Homo sapiens: one gene and its partners. The protein of the gene in region 2 interacts with the protein of the main gene of each other region in a pairwise test. Each region holds a gene or a part of one and is shown on either strand. Other genes may lie near its edges.

Region 1 (7,675 bases), on a different chromosome or scaffold from region 2:
AATCTAGCTTAACATAAAGCCACCCCAGCAGTCTTCCAGTCTCAATCTTCTAACAGTTACAGCTCATTTTCCTTTCATGTGGATCACATACCTCTTCTGATCAAACACCTTCAGTGAAGTCTTTCATAATTTGTCTTCTTTATCTATTATTAACTTACATAAACTATGAATATCAGCCACATTGTTCTACCGATGTTTTCTCAAATGTAAGTTGTACCCTTCAAGGAGCTCATTAATCTGTTCACATTACAAATATCCTCCAATATTTACCTTTCAAAGCTCACTCATCTCAAATACTACCTTCACCAAGCCCCAATCACAAGTAATGTCTACCTCACCTAAATTCCTAAGGAACTTTTATAAAAACTCATAAGGCATTTACTGTTGTGTAAAAAATTGCCTCACTTGACTACAAGTTCTTTGAAGGCAGAAACCACGTTTCATTCTTTTTGTTTTCCAAAGGGCCTTGTCCTGGTAGACTCAAAATATTGACCTAACTTAACCTTCTGAACATTTGACAGCATGATTTATTTTGATATACATATTGTTTCTTAAAGACTAGTTCTCAGTATACAATATAGCACATAATTCATGTGCCTTTTTATAGATAGTTAAAAGCAACTGTACTCATCTCACACTCTTTGGAGTTTTCCCACTTATCAAAATGTTCCTGCAGACACATGTACACTTTTAAAGTTTAAAAACTACACTAAATAGAGCTGTTACTTATTCCCTTCCTTTTTAGAAATGGTTACATTTCACATTTCTCACCAAAAATCTTTCAGCATTTTATGTACTTCATTTTCTTGTGAAGAGTCCACAGTCTTGTCATATGTTATAGTTCACAGTGCTCCAATCTTAATCTATCTGAATTCCCAATCTGTATCAAAAGCTGCTTTGGCAACATTATTTCAGGCTTTACGAAATTCTGATCCTTACACAATCTTGAAATGTTTCTGTCATGGGGAAAGACTTTATTTCTTGGCATTCGGAGCTCAGAGGACTGGCATGAGGATCAAGTAAGACTGTGTAAGTGAAAGGTCACAGAAAATTCTAATACTACTACATAAATGTAAGAATTATCATCTCAATTCTGAATTTCAAATATTTAAAATCACCTATTTACTACAATCTAATGTCATTAAACTGCAGTTATATAAAAAGACTTGCTTACTGTTAAGTTATAAAAAGTTCAGAAAAGACAGAAAAAAAGTGAAACTGGCCATAAACCAGATCATAAATAGGAAGCAATCTTAAGTAGACTATCCCTCTTGCACATATCAGGTCAAATATTTTATTCCAATAATATTTTTTGTACTGTCCTTTTTTTTTTTTTTTTTTTTTTTGAGACAGAGTCTCGCTCTGCTGCCCAGGCTGGAGTGCAGTGGCATGATCTCGGCTCATTGCAAGCTCTGCCTCCCGGATTCACGCCATTCTCCTGCCTCAGCCTCCCAAGTAGCTGGGACTACAGGCACCTGCCACCATGCCCGGCTAATTTTTTGTAATTTTTAGTACAGACGGGGTTTCACCGTATTACCCAGGATGGTCTCGATCTCCTGACCTCGTGATCGTCGGCCTCCCAGAGTGCTGGGATTACAGGCGTGAGCCACCGTGCCCAGCCCTGACCTTTCTTTCAATCCTGCCAAAGTAATGAAATAATACAAAGCTCCTAGCATTGTGTAACTATTTCTATTATTTTTTCATAAAACTAGCATTGTCTTTAAGATTCCTATTTTCTCTCTTATTTATAATAGTATGAATTCACTAACAATATTTGTATTATGCTCAAATCAAATAGCCTATGACGATAATGTGACTTGGTCAGACCTTTCCAAATAAGACAGTAGGAAAAACGGAACTAGGACGGCCTTGTTACTTTTTGTAACACGTTTTTCTTAAAGGAAAAATAATCTGATTAAACTTAAAAATTCTCTACATCCACATAGTTATTAAGCAAAAGGCCTAGAGATCGTTACGGTAAAATTCACCTTCAATTTAAGTCTATGCTCCTGCCAGAATTTCACCCTCTGGCTCAATTTTCCAGGCCTAATACTGATTCTATGAGAATGTAAACTCCAACGGTACTTGAGTGCAAAACACCCAGGAAAATCTCATCGTCCAAGAGCTCAACGTAAAACCCTGTAAATATTCAAATGAAGAGCGTTTTGTATACGAGAAATATAAGTAAAGGTCTGGGAAACCACACACTATGGATCTTTCATCCAAACAAAGGCTGCAGATGGACAGAAGGTAAGGGGTAACCTCTCAGTCAAGATCAAACATTGGTCGAAGAAAAATTCCAGGGACGATGACACCTCGGTTTTTCCGTTCACAACAACAAACAACGGGGCCGGCCCCCTCAACAGCGCCGAAAAGCGAAACCAGAACCCAGGAGCCGGCGCGCTGCAGGGCTTTCAGTCACCCACTGAGAGGGACTGGCAAGCCTGAGTGGGGAGACCGAGGAAGGGAGCAGAGCCCCCGCTTCTCGGGCTCACCTGCACCTCCCGCTTCCAGGGAAGAACCCCTGAGGACCCTTCCTCAAATCAACGACCGGTTCCCATCCTCCACCGACCGTTGACAGGGCGACCACTAGATTATCTCTGCAACGCAGAGCACCGAGGGGCCAAGGCCTTCTTCCCGCCCGCGAACCCGCCGCCACCCAGGACCAAGAAAAAGAGGCTGCTGCAGCGGCCGCAACCCCAGCGCGCGGAAGCGAGAACAGAGACCGGACCCCGGACGCGAGCGAAACGCCCTTGGGCCCCGCGCCCCTCCCAGCAGCGCCGCGCTCACCTCCACGGCCTGGCCCGCGGGACCCGCCAGCTCGACCAACAACGGCCTGCAGCCGCACCTCCGCAAGCTCCTCTTTTCCTTCTCAGCTCTCGGAGAGGGGCAGTGTCGCGTCAGGAGGGCCGGAAAACGGCCCCGCAGCGCTGCCCTCGGGGGGTCCGCCTCCTGAACTGGCCACTTCCCGCAGCAGCCGCGGCTCCTTCCGGTGTCTCCGGGGCCGCCGCAGGCGTCTCCGGCGATAGGGGAGGTGGGGGCGGAGCCTCGATGGGAGCCCGCCCCAGGGGCGGGGCCACGGGAGCCAGGCCCAGGTGCGGGGACCCAGGCCGGCTCCCTACTCTGACTGCAAACTAACTGTACAGGGTATGTGCAGCAGTTTGAGGCTGTGAGCTTTTTTTTTTTCGTTTTTCACATGTTTTCTCCTTCTCTTTCACAGTCACACACTACGACCATTATAAGGTCTTGTCTCGATGCATTACAAAAACTGCATTAAGGCTGGCCACTGAAGGGCCTCAGGTTTCCAAACTTGAGCAAAGAAATATTAGACTTAACTTATCCCAATTCAACATTGTATTTCCTCCTTTCATCTTTCTTCCCCCAACTTCTTAGGACCTAGATTCTCTGAAAGCAATTATGTTTCCCTTTTCCACCTATGCAAAGAAGAAATTTATCTCACCATTTTCTCCTTAGGCTAAAATCAAGAGGATCAAATCAAATATTTATTGAAACCTTAGTATCTGCTTAATGCCTGGAGCATGGAAGGAGTCCTGCCTTCTAATTATGTAACTGTTAAAATGCACTCGATTGAGGTTCAAATCTATGAATAAAAAAGGTTATATTAATAAAAAATTGTTAAAATTGCCAGTTTCAATCTGTCTCATGACATCTGACTTTTTGGTCTCCAAAATGGGAGCATGTACCAAAGTATCATGCAAGATGCTCAGTCTCCATTGGAATAGGTAGAAAATATAAAAGCTTCTACTTATTTTTATGGTAAAAATGAAATAAATTAACCATGATACAAAATTCTAGGTAGGGATTGACACTCAGGCCTCAATTTGCACCACAAATGATTGCCTATCCTCGGTTCACTGAGGAGAATAGAAATTTCACAGAATAGAAGTTTCACAGGCAGGCGCCATGGTTCATGCCTGTAATCCCAGCACTTTGGGAGGCCGAGGCGGGTGAATCACTTGAGTTCGAGACTAGCCTGGGCAACATGGCGAAACCCCATTTCTACTAAAAATACAAAAATTCGCCAGGCATGGTGACAGGCACCTGTAGTCCCAGCTACTCAAGAGGCTAAGAGTGGAGGATCACTTGAGACCAGGAGTTTGAGGTTGCAGTGAGCCATGATTGTGCCACTGCACTTCAGCCTGGGTGACAAAGTGAGATATTCTCTGGGAAAAAAAAAAAAAGATGCCGTTAGGAGATGAAAAGTTGTCTCCAGCCGGGCACAGAGCCTCACACCTGTAATCCCAGCATTTTGGGAGGCCAAGGCGGGTGGATTACCTGAGGTCAGGAGTTCAAGACCAGCCTGACCAACATGGTGAAACCCCCATCTCTACGAAAAATACAAAAATTAGCCAGGTGTGGTGGCGCGTGCCTGTAATCCCAGCCACTCAGGAGGCTGAGGCAGGAGAATTACTTGAACCCAGGAGGCAGAGGTTGCAGTGAGCCAAGATAGAGCCACTGAACTCCAGCCTGGGCAACAGAGGAGGACCCTGTCTCAAAAAAAAAAAAAAAAAAAAAAAAAGCTGTCCACAGAGGAGATCTACAGAAGAAAAAAAAAGAAGAGAGACAGAGAGAGAAGAAAAGTTAGGCCAGCAAATAGAATTTATTTGAAATACATATAATTGAAAAGGGGCTCAACTCCATATGTATTTCCAGAAATCAATTTTTAAAAAAACAGGCGACCAAATAGAAAAATAGACAAAAGTCACTTCCCCAGAAATTCTTCTATTGAAAATGTATCAGGGGTATTCTGTTCTTACAGTGTCCTAGCAAATTCAATTCAGCCTCCAAGTCCCACCACCATCCTGCTTAGTAACCAAGGTTCTCTCTGGGCTTACCTGTCCTGGAGGAGTTCTAGGGCAGTGTCAATGCAAGGAAGACAACTGACAAGGCTGTTCAAGATCACCAGGTGCGGTGGCTCATGCCTGTAATCCCAGCACTTTGGGAGGCCCAGCAGGGCAGATCACCTGAGATCGGGAGTTTGAGACTAGTGCGTAGATAATAGTAGGCAAGTACTTCTCAGGTGGACACCAAGTGAAGTCCTTGCAGTGGACAAGTTCTCACAAAACAAACTCACTCTGATAGAATATAATGTAATACCTCTCCCACTTTTAACTTCCGTGAATTCCTGCCTCCCACCCTTGGGTGTTTATCCTTTCATCCCACAGTCCAGATTGCTTATCTTTTACTTTTCTTCAAACAATATCTCCTGATGGCTTATAATGGCTTATAAGGAAGAACACTATCATTAGGAAATAAATCAATCAACTTCCCCTTGAGAGAATAGATTATACATTCCAAAGTGTGGACACCCAGCTGAGTCACTGATTCTGGAGTAGAATTCTAGAGGGTGTGTGGACACCCAGCTGAGTCATACTGATTCTGGAACAGAATTCTAGAGGTGCCGTTCATGGAGAATATAATGTAAATAGTATGACTTAGAGTTGTGCATCAGGCCAGGTACTGAAGTCTCTTCTAATGAAAGGGAGAAAAAAGAAGAAATGAAGAGTAGGAAGAAAAAGAAGAAAAGAAGTCTCTTCTAATGAAAGGGAGAAAAAAGAAGAAATGAAGAGTAGGAAGAAAAAGAAGAAAAGAAGGAGAGATACAAACAGGGAGGGAGGAAGACAATTGAATGGTCCTATCAAAAACAAATACCTTCTCATTTTTGTAACTGAGTAATGGCAAGTAAAAAATAGCAACGTAGAAAATATACATTTTGGTGCTTATGTACCTGAGACTAAATAAAGCTTTGTAAATGCTGTTTCCTTAGAGACAATTTTACAGATACTCCCAACCTCTATCCTTCCTTCACCTGGCTAACTCCTACCTAGATATTCTCTGTTTAATACAGAACTCTTTACCCCATTATTTCCGGTTTCAGCATCCTGCTTGCTTCCTTTAGAGAATGTATTATAATTTGTAATTATCTTAAATTTTTTGGTATACTTAATTTTTTGCCTGTCTCTCCTGAACTCCTCAATGGGAGCAGTGAGTATTTATCTTATTCACAATATTCCCAGAGCCTAGCATTGAAGGACTCAAAAACTTGTTGGCACTCAACTGGGGGTGGTTTTGTCCCCTGAGTGGATAGTTGGCAATATTTCTGAAGAGGATTGGTGGGAGAAAGAATTAGTAACATTCCTTTGCATTGATATTACAAGAGAGTCCCAGACATCATTAATGCCACTATTGAGAAACTCTGATTTAAGCTGGGGCTTTAAAATATGTCTTTGGGCCGGGCCCAGTGGCTCACGTCTGTAATCCCAGCACTTTGGAAGGCCGAGTTGGGCGGATCACCTGAGATCAGGAGTTCGAGACCAGCCTGGCCAACATGATGAAACTCCATCTCTATCAAAAATACAAAAATTAGCTGGGTGTGGTGCAGGTACCTATAATCCCAGCTACTCGGGAGGCTGAGGCAGGAGAATCGCTTGAACCCGGGCGGCGGAGGTTGCAGTGAGCTGAGATGGCACCACTGCATTCCAGCCTGGGCAACAAGAGCAAAACTCTGTCTCAAAGTAAAATAAAATATGTTTCTGGGCAGGGCGCAGTAGCTCATGCCTGTAATCCCAACACTTTGGAAAGCTGCGGCTGCTTGAGACCAGAGTTCAAGACCAGCCTGGGCAACATGGCGAAACCCTGTCTCTACAAAAAATTGCAACAATTAGCCGGGCATGGTGGATCATGCCTGTAGTCCCAGCTACTATGGAGGGTGAGGTGAGAGAATCACTTGAGCCCAGGAAATTAAGACTGTCATGAGCCATGACTGTGCCACCCCTCTCCAGCCTGGGCAATAGGAGTGAGACCCTGTCTCTCAAAAAACAAAAACAAGAACAAAAAAAAAAGAAAGAAAGAAAAGAAAAATATATTTTAAAACAAATCTTAGGCAAAGCATTTTTGCTTTTCCGCTCACTGTCACATAATTAAAAAGTCCACCAGGCCAGGTGTGTTGGCTCATGCCTATAATTCAACACTTTTCAAAGCCAAGGTGGGAGGATCAGTTGAGCCCAGGAGTTCGAGACCAGCCTGGTTAACAAAGTGAAATTCTGCCTCTACAAAAAATTTTAAAAAATAATACCAGGATACGATGGCACATGCCTGTAGTACAGCTACTCCAGAGGCTGAGGCAGGAGGATCCCTTGAGCCCAGGAGTTTGAGACTGCAGTGAGTGAGCTATAATCGTGCCACTGTACTCCAGCTTGGTGACAGAGCAAGAGCCTCTCTGTCAGAAAAAAAAAAAAAAAAAGTCCTCCAGTAATTTTCTAGTAATAAAAAAAAGTGGCCTTTTGCCCCTAGTATTAGAAAAAAATCCTGTCCAGTGCAATATCAAAAATTCTCTGCCATTTCCTCTACCTTGTTCTCCCTTCTCCCTGGCTTATTGGCTTTTTGTTTTGTGCCCCTCCACAGTTGAAGAAGACAAGAACAGAAAGGATCTTTCTGGACTGACACAGTTTTAGCAGTCAGTGACTTTTGGGAGTGGCTGAGGTCTGAAGCTGACTCTTTCTCTCATGGAGTCCATCACTGGAACCCTCACCTACAGTCTCTTGGCTCAGCAATGTATCTTCTGGATGGCCACCTATGACCTAGTCCTTAGTCCCCTGATTTCCAGGGATCCTCTCACCCAAACTGACAGTCCTTTTGGACAGACATTTTCAAG
Region 2 (7,116 bases):
CTACTGTGGTACACAAATCACAATTAATGAACCAATATCGATACAGTATTAGCAACTAAGGTCCAAACTTTATTCAAATGTGCTTGCTTTTTGCCTGACATCCTTTTTCTGTTCCAGGATCCCATCCAGGTTGCCACATGACATTTAGTTTCGTCATGTCTCTTTAGCCTTGAGTTGGCCATGGTAATTCTCAGACTTTCCTTGTTTTTGATGACCTTAATAGTTTTGAGGACTGCTGGCTGGCAGTTTGTACAATGTCTCTCAATTGGGATTTGTCAGATGTTTTCCTCATGATTAAAGTAGGGTTATTGGTTCTTGGGAGGAAGATTTAGAAAGTGCTATTCTTATTGCATCATATCAAGGGTCCCACCAATTGTTTTTCAAAACCCAAATGTGCCAGAAATTACTGGAAGTCAGACCTTGAGCATAGATTTTGCATTGAGAGGTAAGTTATCCACTGTGAAAGTGTCATCAATTTTAAAGTACCATGGTTCTGCTCTTCCTAGTCATGTAAGTCTGAGCAAAGTGCAAAGTACTTCTTACCTCAGTTTCCTCATCTATAAAATGGAGCCAACAATTATACCTTCCTTATAAAGTTGCTATGAGGGTTAAATGTGAAGTGCTTATAACTGCATCGACAGAGTAAATATTCAAAAAATGTTAGCTCATTATTAATCTACTGGAAGAAATGTTTTTTTGTAAAATCAAAAAACAAAAGGAAATCTGTAAGACTTAGGTTCAATAATTTGCTACCTTAAAAATGCCTCTCCTTTGAAATTATTAAGAGCTGTTGAAGCTATAGGAACGTAAGTAAAGTCAGCCCTCTGTATCCACAGACTCAACTAACTGCAAATAAAAAATATCTTTTAAAACCCCAAAAACAGCCAGGTGCAGTGGCTCATACCTGTAAACCCAGCACTTTGGGAGGCTGAGGCAGGAGGATTGCTTGAGGCTAGGAGTTCAATACCAGCCCAGGCAACACAGTGAGACCCCCATATCTATAAAAAATAGAAAAAAAATTTGGCTGGGTGTAGTAGTGTGCACCTGTAGTCCTAGCTACTCAGGAAGATCGCTTGAGCCCAGGAGTTCAAGGCTGCAGTGAGCCATGATTACATCACTGTACTCTAGCCTGGATGACAGAGTAAGATCCTGTCTCAAAAAAAAAAACCAAAAACCAAAAAAATGCCACAATAAAAAGTAAAACAAAATTTAAAATGCAGAATAACAACTATTTACATAGCAATTACACTGTATTAGCTATTAAAAGTAATCTAGAGATGACTTAAGGTACATGGGAGGATGTGCATAGGCTATCTGCAAATACCACACCATTTTATAGAAGAGACTTGACTATCCATGAATGTCGGTATCCATAAGGAGTCCTGGAACCAATCCCTGCCCTGCCCTGATACTGAGGGACGACTATATTTTAGAATAAGAGAAAATGAGAAAATTAAAGGGATATTAGAATGGCAAATCAGCAAAGTACACTTGGTTTTGCAGACTTTTTTTTTTTTTCTTTTTTTTGAGACAGGGTCTTACTCTGTCACCCAGGCTGTAGTGCAGTGGCATGATCACGGCTCACTGCAGCCTCAACCTCCTGGGCTCAAGCAATTCTCTTACCTCAACTTCCCGAGTAGCACACCTATACTATAGGCACGCGCCACCACACCCAGCTAATTTTTTTTTCTTTTTTTCTTTTTTTTGTAGAGATGGGGTTTCACCATGTTGTCCAGACTGGTCTTGAACTCCTGAACTCAAGTGATCTGCCTGCTTCAGCCTCCCAAATTGCTGGGATTACTGCTGTGAGCCACTGTACCTGGCTGCAGGCATTTTATAGTGATGCTTGAAAAACTGGGAAAAATCTTCTTGCCTTATTTTCAGATTATTCTATTCTGTGCTTCTTAGACAATGTTTCCTAAATACCACCACCACACTACTACCACTAACATTGTACTCAGCGCTCACAATGTGCCAAACACTGCTTTCAGGACTTACATACATTTTCTCATTTAATCCTTACCTAAACCTATGAAGTTAGTATCATTATTATTCTTGTCCTACAGATGAGGAAACTGATGCACACAGAAATTATGTTAACTTGCTCAGAGACACACTTAAGTAGAACCAGGACTGAGAAATCCAACTCCAGAGCACACAATGAACTTGTACAGTAGATACCAAGAGAATACAAAGGCAGACCTCCTGCATTTTAACTCTATGCTATTCCTGACTGCACAACCTGGGGCAAGCCACTTAACCTCCCTGCATTTCTGTTTCTTCATTTATAAATTTGGATGTCACTTTTTTAAAAAAAGTCAAATTTAAGACATCACTAGTTCTCAATCTTATTTTATGGACTCTAAGAAAAACTGCTGGCAATTATAACTGTATGGTGCCATATCATAAGACATAGCCCTCAGAGATGTTAAAATGTACATCTTATAATCTATGAAATCCAGTAGTATCTATCTCACAGTGTTGTTTGAGAAACTAATTTATATATGTGAATGCTTAGAACAGTCTGGTCCTGGTAAGTGCTGCATGAGTATGAGGTAGTGTTACTATTATTATTACTTCATTCACTTGATTACTCACGATGTAGCAAACATTCTAACACATTCAACACTCATAGGAAGTTCTTTGGACCTGAACTCTCAGTTTTTCTAATGTGAATAGACTATAGGCCGCACAGACTATGGGCCACAGAGAAAGTAAACTCCATTCTTCACTGATTTGTATTTGTCTTAAACATCCTTTTAGAAGTCAAACAAGCACGGTATCTGGGTGATGCAGGCTAAGACGTACAGCACTACACAGTGCTATGATGCTTCCTACCACTCACATGATTTCTTGCAAAAACCATGTCAACTTTCACCATGATTACTATTAAATATATGCAGTACTTGTGAAGGGCATTTTGGCCAATCACAATCTTTTTCTAGGGCGTGCTGTGACTTTCTTAACCAGTTTCCTTTGTGAATGACGGCCTGAATGCTGTTCTTTTTTCTTTTTTTAATTATACTTTAAGTTGTAGGGTACATGTGCACAACGTGCAGGTTTGTTACCGAGGTATACATGTGCCATGTTGGTTTGCTGCACCCATCAACTCGTCATTTACATTAGGTATTTCTCCTAATGCTATCCCTCCCCCAGTCCCCCACCCCACGATAGGCCCCAGTGTGTGATGTTCCCTGCCCTGTGTCCAAGTGTTCTCATTGTTCAATTCCCACCTATGAGTGAAAATATGCAGTGTCTGGTTTTCTGTCCTTGTGACAGTTTGCTCAGAATGATGGTTTCCAGCTTCATCCATGTCCCTGCGAAGGACATGAACTCATCCTTTTTTATGGCTGCATAGTATTCCATGGTGTATATGTGCCATATTTTCTTAATTCAGTCTATCATTGATGGACATTTGAGTTGATTCCAAGTCTTTACTATTGTGAGTAGTGCCGCAGTAAACATACATGTGCATGTGTCTTCATAGCAGCATGATTTATAATCCTTTGGGTACATACCCAGTAATGGGATCGCTGGGTCAAATGGTATTTCTATTCTAGATCCTTGAGGAATCGCCACACTGTCTTCCACAATGGTTAAACTAATTTACACTCTCACCAACAGTGTAAAAGCATTCCTATTTCTCCACATCCTCTCCAGCATCTGTTGTTTCCTGACTTTCTAATGATCGCCACTGAATGAAGCTGTTAACAACAACTAACCTGCCACTCAGTCTCACCACTTGGAAGGTGAGACTGACTCAGGTGTTTGTAACTCTAGCACCTCTGGTCATATGTGTGTATATATAGTCATTAATTTATTTCTTAATAAATACCTACTAAGCTACTCTGAGTCAGGTGCTGCAGGGAAACCAATACTGAAAAAGCATAGTGTGATTGATGCTGGCAGAAACACGGCTGTAGAAAACCTGGACCTACTGGGTTCCGAGGTGAGAAGATGTTATTTTTTTAGAGTTAATAGATTGGTTTTACTAGCAACTTTGCTGGATGTCAGAGAAAAGTAATTCTACGGTATAAACTTCATATACATTTTGCTTAATATAATACTCCCTTTAAATACAGTTTTAGAGGCTATTACAGAATTTCAGAATAGGGAAGTACAATCTGGTCCAACTTCATTTTTGACATAGGAAAGTAAAAACCAAAAGGTAAAGGTTTTTGAATCAAGACAAATGTTTACTAAACATGTACTTACTATAGATTATATGCTATGAACTATGGCATATATAGGTACTGGGGATACTGAGACAGGAAAGGAATAGGTGTTAAGTGTGATACTGGAGCTGCAGCAAGGACATTGCATATATAGACGAGGAAGCAATGGATTTTGTGGATCACAGAGATGACCAGGAAGGCTAAAGGGAGGAGCTGATATTTATGCTACTGTTTTATTTATTTTTGCTACTCTTGCAGTTTAGACCACGTGGAGTGCCCACTGTAACCATTCAGACCTTTTCAAAAAAGCCTTTCACCAACAATATTGTTGGTGAGTCACTAGGGTCATTTTTATTTATGGCAGAGGCATTGGAGGTACGCCCTAAGAGTAATGAATCATCCTTATTTTCTATAATAGTAATAGCCCAAGATTCTTGCATGAAAATACCTTATTCTCTTGAAATATCACTTTGACTTTGGTGACTATGGTGATAACATTTATTCCATTACTTAGAACAAGACTTGCTACATTATAAGCACTCAAATATCTGCTGAATGAATAAGCATTGGCATTTATATAACTTTCAACATGTCTCCCACAATTACAAGCTACCAGAGTCTGCCATCCCTTGCATGTCATCATATATGAAATTTCTTCCTCATAGAAACCAACAAACTTTATGAATAAATCTATACTTCAGAGTTTCTCAATTACCTGCTTTTTGCAAAGAATGCTCTCTTAGAATAAGTTCTTGAGATTTTCAAGTGTGCATAAAAAGGAATGCTCTGTAAAAGCCTTGGTTTAGTTTTTTGCTCACCCACCTGAAATGCCCTCTTTCCTTATGTGTGAAAATCCTTCTTTTCTTCAAGCTCATCTATTTCATGAAGGTTTCCCAGCTTCTTTCCCCTCCCGGATCCTCTGCACTAACCACTGCCCATGTTCCTACTTTGTCACTAACTTGCTCTTGGTTAAATGCCTTATATATTCATCTAGGCTGTGTGAATCTTGAAAATAGAGGATACATTGCATGCTTCTTTTCTGTCCTCCATAATCAAGTAAGACACTTCACACAGAAATAAAAATATGTATCATTTAATTAAAGAACACTTGATTTATGCATGTAGTATTTGCAAGACCACGCAAGAACTCTATGCCAAATACCTCTTAAATATAGAGGAGCACCTCTTTCCCCTTCACCAAAACCACCTCCTCTAAAACCAAATGGATTCCAGATTTTAATTAAACAATAAATAATAAAAAATATTATATAACAATCTAATGTGCCCATCTACAGAGATATTATTTCTATTAAAAATTCATTCATTCTGAAGGTTCCCATGTAATAAGAAAAAGAAACAAAAAATTCAGTCTGTGCTATCAGGGCATCTATATTTTGAGGAGGATGGCAACGTGCCTACTGAGCATTACATAGGTGCTAAGAAACCATGACTAACAGAGAAAGATGTAAAACCTGAGTAAGCTCCATTATGTGCTCTAAGTATGAACTGTTATGGCAGTAGTAGTTTACACTAAAGAGAAATACTTCAGTAACTCATAGAGACTCTGGGTAACTGAAGCTGTCACAAAATCAAACTCCAATACAGGTGACACCGGGAGAGCTGTAAGACTATGCAAAGTATCCTAACTGTGTGTACATAACACAGTAGAGAGAGTCATATACTGATATCAAAAAGGGAATAAACACAATTAGAGACAGAGTAAAAGACTAACAAGTTAGAACCTCTAGTTGTCTACTTGTTTCTGGGGAAGAAATTGTTGTATAGTATGTCACAAGCAACAACATTACTCTAGGACATACCTGAAGTCAGCTGTAGCTGCAAAGGATTCCATTTCTGTAATAGAGAAAACACAGAGGAACCCCTCCCCACTTCGGAAGTAGTTGTCTCTAATTGCAGCGTAGTCCTCCTGCCCAGCTGTATCTAAGATATCGATCTGGACTTCCTCCCCATCTAGCACTACCTTCTTCCGATAGCTGTCTGCTTTGGTAGGCTCATAGTCCTCCACAAACTAGAAAAGATAAAAACACACCAATTTTTTAATTATTACGTTTCAAAACTTATTTTGAAATAATTATAAATTCATGTGAAGCTGCCAAAATAGTACAAGAAGAGTTCTGTATACCCTTTGCCCAGATTCCTCCAATGGTAAAAACTACACTAATTTTAATTTTAGACAATTTCTTGGTTTCCTCATTTGCAAACAGAGAGGGCTGAGTTATTACCTCTAGGCTGTTTACAGCTTGAAAACAGCTTTTCTTCCTTAAAACACAATACCTGCAAAAACTATTACACATATATTTTACCAAATTTATAATAGTCTTTTTTCTATGTAACTCTGAATATAAATTTTCATGCTAGAACTGTGGAAATAACTTAAAGGTCAATATTTTGGTAAGCACTGAAAGTATCATTAAATCCTTTCTTTTTCTAAAATGAACTAAGTCAATAAAGTGATTTACACTACTCAACAGAAAGTCAAATCTTAAACTTTATGAGACTTCTTCCCAAACTTTTGATTTTTTAAATAGTACAATTCAACAACTTTACATTCCCACTCCTATCGTCAGCCCCATAAATCTCACTTTAATATACCTTGATAAACCGTAGGCAGGCAGATGATAAGTATGTGTATATGTACGCAGACAAGGCCTTACTATGTTGCCCAGGCTGGTCTTGAACTCCTGGGCTCAAATAATCCTACTGCCTTGGTCTCCCAAAGTGTTGGGATCACAGGTGTGAGCCACCAGGCCCGGCCTATCTTTTGATATCATTGTTAGCATGTATTCATTTACACACAGACATTTGTGGGTTTTTTATTAGCTCTTGTAAATATTTTCATTATCTGATACATTCTTATTTATTTGCTATGACTGTATCTTGTCATTAGAATTTAACCCCTCAGAGCAGGGACCTTGCATAT
Region 3 (4,905 bases), on a different chromosome or scaffold from region 2:
TCCTAAATGTCTTCAAACCTACTTCTTGCCTGTATATACAACCCTTAACTCTCCCTCATCTTGGTTGGCATGATTCTTTTGGAAGGGCATTTGCAACATACCATATTGCTAGGAATGTCGGTTTAATTGAAAAAGAATACACAGTTCTCTAACCTGAGGCCCCAGGATGAAATGTGGTTACCCTCCTTGCCAACAGCCCTGGCATCTCTATTAGTACTTTTCAGCCTCTGTCTTCCTAGAATTTGCTTGAATGTAGCTTTAAACTGACTTAAAATCCCAGCATGTAATGCTTTATGGTATTATAAGTCCTCCCAAGTTTATATGTTGTCCATAAAGTTGTTCTGCCATTTCCTTGTCCTAAAATTGTTTTATACACATTTGCAGCAAGGGACCAGTGGTAGAGAGGTTACTGGAGAGAAACTGTTCTGAGGAAACTTTTTTCACCAATACCTCACTTTTTGCTCTGTTCATGGGGACAGAAAACATTGTGCCCCTTCCTGTTCCATGGCATCTACCTTCAGCCAATTCCCCACCCCCACTCATAGCAGCCAGTTCATATGTACTGCAAGGACAGGGGAGTAGAATTCAGGTAGTGTTTTGGTTTATTATCTTAGTGTTGTCACAGTGATAGAAACCCCCAGAGTGGGAAGAAGAGCTCCTGCGAGGACCTACATTTTGCCATTCCCCTCTGCCCTGGGGCTCAGAGCCTTGAAGCCTTTGCTTGGCCCTTGCATGTTAGGATATGGCCAAGAATCAGAAACTGATGCGTTTTTCCAGCACTACCTGTGTGCTGCACTCATGGAAGGTGGGAAGCTATACACAGGTATCCAACTTGGTTATAAGACACCAGTTCCCACAGGGCTGGATTTCTCAGCTGTCTGGTAAACCAGTGGCACTTCACTGCCCCAGGGTGGCTGGCTCCCTTTCTGAATTTCTGTCTCAATGTGATATAATTGCCACCATTCAGGATGGCTACCCACATCTGGTATGAACACCATGACTTCTGTAAGCCAACGGGGCTTCCTCCTCAGAACAGTGCCCGTGCAATCTTCCTCCCTGTGGCCTTGATCCTGGGAAAGGAGCCCCCTCCTCCCTCACTCGGAGGAGTTCCTGAGGCAGACGGGCCACTGGTGACGCCAGGTGTAGCAGTAGAGGACCTTCGCCGCTGCCGCAGGAGGAAATCGTGTGAAGCTCCATCCATGGCGTAGAATACATTAGCCGAGGCTGGGATAGTCAGCTCTGAAGGTTCAGGGGATGGATGTAAAGCACACACACAGTTGTTCCCCCCACAGCCGCCCAGATGTGGAAGTACTCCACTCTCCTCCCGAGTCTGCCTTTCCCTCATGGCCTCTGACCTCGCTCCCCTGGTAGCAGCTGTACCAGCTCATACTCTGAAGCCACTGCAGAGTCACGATTGTTTTTCTTAAGGACACGACTGATGACACTTGGAGCCTTGTCCTGGCTTGTCACCTGGCAGAACAGGAGACCAAAAGAGCAATCAATCAGCCATGATTTCCCATCCTTCTACCCTCAGCCACTGAACCCAACCACAAAATGTTACTTGTGTCCAAGGCTTTAAAATGAACAGGAAAACCCAATATGGTGGCTTCCTATACCCCATAAGCCAGCCCACATGGTGCCCAGTGAAACAGAGCTGCTTCCCTGTGGGGAAACTGCTGTTGATTCTGAAATTTTAACACGGCGACCAAAAGTTTAAGGTGTAGCAACTAATGCAAAATAGCCATCAAAATAAAACAAATTTCAGCTTCTATTGAAGACTAGAGTTTAGAAGATAAAATTAAAAATAAAACATAACTGCCAAAACCAAAGGTCAAAATTAAAACTACATTCAATTCCATTTGGCTGCCCAAACCTCAGACAACATTTATAGTCCAACAAGACACCATCCTTCACCCCAACTCCATCCCAAGGCTCCCTCACCAAAATGCTCTTATAGACACTGCCATCTTCCCCCAACTCCATCTGGACTCGGATGATACGGCAATCAGAGGCCCCTGGCCCAGATCCCTCTCCCCCATATCCAGTCCCCCCGGAGGCCTCTTCTGCACCCCCACTCAGCGGGGAGCCACAGGAGGCTGAGCGGCGGTGACCTCGAGAAGGCCTAGGGGAGGAGGCTGGTGGGGAGAGGTGGCTGGGGTCAGCTGGACTGTGCAGGGATGGACTGCTTTCCAAGGCAGAGTCTAGTGACGAGACAGATGGCCACTTCATGTGCTAGGAACAAACAACATGGGACTGGCATGAAGGCAGGGAGGTTTAAGGAAGAAACATTTACAGAGTGAGGGTCAGCGTCAAGGTCAGAGTCAGGAGCAGAGCTCACCTGGGCCAGCCGAGTCAGCAGAGGAGCAGGAGTTGTAGGCGCCTCATCTCCCCCAGTACTGGGCCGGTCACAGGACACAAGCGGGGTAGGGACCCCAACAGAGCCCAAAACCCTGCAGTGGCAGGAGATTGGGAGGATCAGAGAAAAGTGGAAGTCCCAAGAAACCACCCCCCAGCCAGTGAATCTCTCACTCTGTCCACTGCGAGATGACCAATGTTGGCCGAAGCACCCGTGGGGCAGGAGGGTCACTGGAACCAGGTGGCTCCACCTCACAGGATACACGATGGCTGGGTTAGGGGGGCAATAGGCAGAGCTCAGGACATGACACCAATCCCCCACACCTGGCCAGAACCCTGGAGTCCCAACCTCACCCGCCAGTCACCTCTGAGCCTCTGTCAGTGGCCGGAGCCCCTGTAGCCACCTCTGGATATCATGGTCAGGTTGGAGGTTATAGCCACGACATTCATTCTGGAGCCGTCGCAACTCAGAAAGGACTGCAAACTCCTGGGAAGGAGCCCTCAAACTGCAGGAGCCAAAACTCAGGGACCCCTGACTTTTCCCCCTCCCCTTCCTGGAACATGGATAGGGAAGTCCAGCATCCAGCCCAGACACTCCGCTCACCTTCCTCCGCTTGTCAAAATTGATGTATCCATTCTGCGAGGAAAATGGGGATGGGGTGAAAGTTCCAACCCTACCTTCCGGCCACAGAGAGAGAATATCCCCTCTCTTAAACACACACAGCCACATCCAACTCACAACCACTTCCCTCCAGCCTCTCTGACTCTTCGATCCCTCCCTGCCTTCCTCCTCAATCTATCATGGCCTAAGCACTCCACTTGACCCTTTAAATTGAATTTCTCAGGTAGACAACGAGTCTGCTTTGCAGATGAGAGGACTGGATAGTATCCAATTCGACAGGATTCCTTATCCAGAGAGGATAAGGAACTTGTCCAAGGTCTCAGTATTTGTTTATTTAACAAACTCTAGCAATAGAGCAGGAGCCCATCACAAAACCTAGATGTGCTTACGTTTCAGGCACGTTCTAAGCACTTGACAAATACAAATTCATTTAACCCTTATAACAGATCAATGTAGATGCTATTTCTAGTTTCCCATTTACAGATCACTGAGGCGACTTGGCACAGAAACAGATCTGGCTCTGTCCCACACTCAGCTATTTGTGCCTTACAGCCCCTTGCAAGGGGCGGGGGGGTCTGTCCGACCCTGCAGCCCACTTGTTACATCATTGCAATGACACACACACACACCACTGACCTCCAACTCATCCTTGGAGGCTGCATCCAGCATCACAAGGTCCTTCAGGAAGGTGCCAAGGTATGGGACCACACCCTGAAGTCAGGGGTCAGGGTCAGAAGTGCCTGCCATTGACGTGAGGGCCCTCCATCCCTCCGCACTTGCCCTCCTCATTGCCTCAGAGAACAGATTTCATTCTCCTCACCCCTCTGTGCCTCCCTTACCCATCCTTCAGGCTGCTCCCCCAAAACATACTCCTCACCCCTTCATAATCACCACCCCCACGCCCACCACCCCGCTAGTCACTCACCCCACCCCGGGAGCCAGACCTCGGGGCCTTCTTGGAGTGTGGCTCCAGAGGAGACTGCAGCTTCACCTCCTGGTGGTGACAAAATAAAAGAGACATGGGGGAGCAGTAGGGAACAAGGAGAGGTGGGAATGCCACAAACCAGGCTCTCACCTGCACGAGCAGCTCCCGACTCTGGGAATAATTATCCTCCTCGGAGAAAATCTGGCAGAGGCTGGAAAAGACTCTGAGGCTGTCCCTGGGGAAGGGAGAAAAGTGGCCCTGAGGACAGGCCTGGCTCTGTCACCCCCTCTTCCCCGCCTTCTGAGGAACCCCCACCCCAGTCCAATGCCTCAGCCTCCGCACCTGGTTGCTTCCCCCCAGGCTGCCCGAAGCCTGTGGATGGGGCTGGACTGCAGGGCTGACACCACGGCATAAACTGAAGAGAAGTTTCGGAGCAGCCGGCACTCCTGTGGGGGTCAAAGAAGAGAGCTAAGGCTATGGGAGGCCTCTCCATTCCATGGCCACAAACCGTAGGGCAATCTTCTCTCTCACCTCTGCCACGCGGATCCACTTCTCCAGGAGCCGGGCCCTCTGTGGGGGACGGAGTGGCCGTATGGTCACCTCCCCAGGTCCCTCTCCAGTGGAAGTAGCCCCCAGGACAGAACTAACCACTGCCCCTGCCACCTTGTTAAACTGTGTGACAGTAGCTCGGACAGATGGGCAGAGGTGAGAATGTCCTGGCCGGTCTCTGTGACCCCACAGGCCTCCCAGGCACTGAGAGGGGATCAAATTGAGAAAAAGTTCCTGCAGGGTAGAGGTCAGAGGTTAAAGTTCATAGTCAAGTGAGGTCAGCCTTCCAATATCAGGGATCTGAGGATCTCAGGTGGCCAAGGAACCAGAGGGGCACAGGGTTTGAAGGGTAACGACCAAAGGGAAAAGGGGAGAATCAAAATGGTAGGTGGAGGAGGCTAGGAGCTGGATCAGGAAGGGGTGGAAGCAAGGAAAGGATCTGGAGTCAAGGAGA

What was found.
Region 1: the proteins of RALA (region 2) and USP33 interact in a two-hybrid assay, tested with the Homo sapiens proteins (one study listed by BioGRID).
Region 3: the proteins of RALA (region 2) and RGL2 interact in a two-hybrid assay, tested with the Homo sapiens proteins (one study listed by BioGRID).

What each region holds. Positions count from the first base shown.
Region 1 is NC_000001.11:77,756,853-77,764,527, forward strand, and holds the start of USP33 (ubiquitin carboxyl-terminal hydrolase 33), read right to left. Parts: upstream 3,001-7,675; 5' UTR 2,791-3,000; intron 1-2,790. UniProt on the Homo sapiens protein: Deubiquitinating enzyme involved in various processes such as centrosome duplication, cellular migration and beta-2 adrenergic receptor/ADRB2 recycling.
Region 2 is NC_000007.14:39,689,470-39,696,585, reverse strand, and holds part of RALA (ras-related protein Ral-A precursor), read right to left. Parts: intron 6,205-7,116; coding exon 5,996-6,204; intron 1-5,995. UniProt on the Homo sapiens protein: Multifunctional GTPase involved in a variety of cellular processes including gene expression, cell migration, cell proliferation, oncogenic transformation and membrane trafficking.
Region 3 is NC_000006.12:33,291,075-33,295,979, forward strand, and holds the end of RGL2 (ral guanine nucleotide dissociation stimulator-like 2), read right to left. Parts: intron 4,686-4,905; coding exon 4,434-4,685; intron 4,349-4,433; coding exon 4,245-4,348; intron 4,138-4,244; coding exon 4,053-4,137; intron 3,972-4,052; coding exon 3,903-3,971; intron 3,689-3,902; coding exon 3,614-3,688; intron 2,993-3,613; coding exon 2,960-2,992; intron 2,862-2,959; coding exon of another isoform or gene 2,843-2,861; coding exon 2,721-2,842; intron 2,626-2,720; coding exon 2,530-2,625; intron 2,451-2,529; coding exon 2,339-2,450; intron 2,254-2,338; coding exon of another isoform or gene 2,233-2,253; coding exon 1,942-2,232; intron 1,471-1,941; coding exon 1,356-1,470; intron 1,240-1,355; coding exon 1,028-1,239; 3' UTR 580-1,027; downstream 1-579. UniProt on the Homo sapiens protein: Probable guanine nucleotide exchange factor. Putative effector of Ras and/or Rap. Associates with the GTP-bound form of Rap 1A and H-Ras in vitro.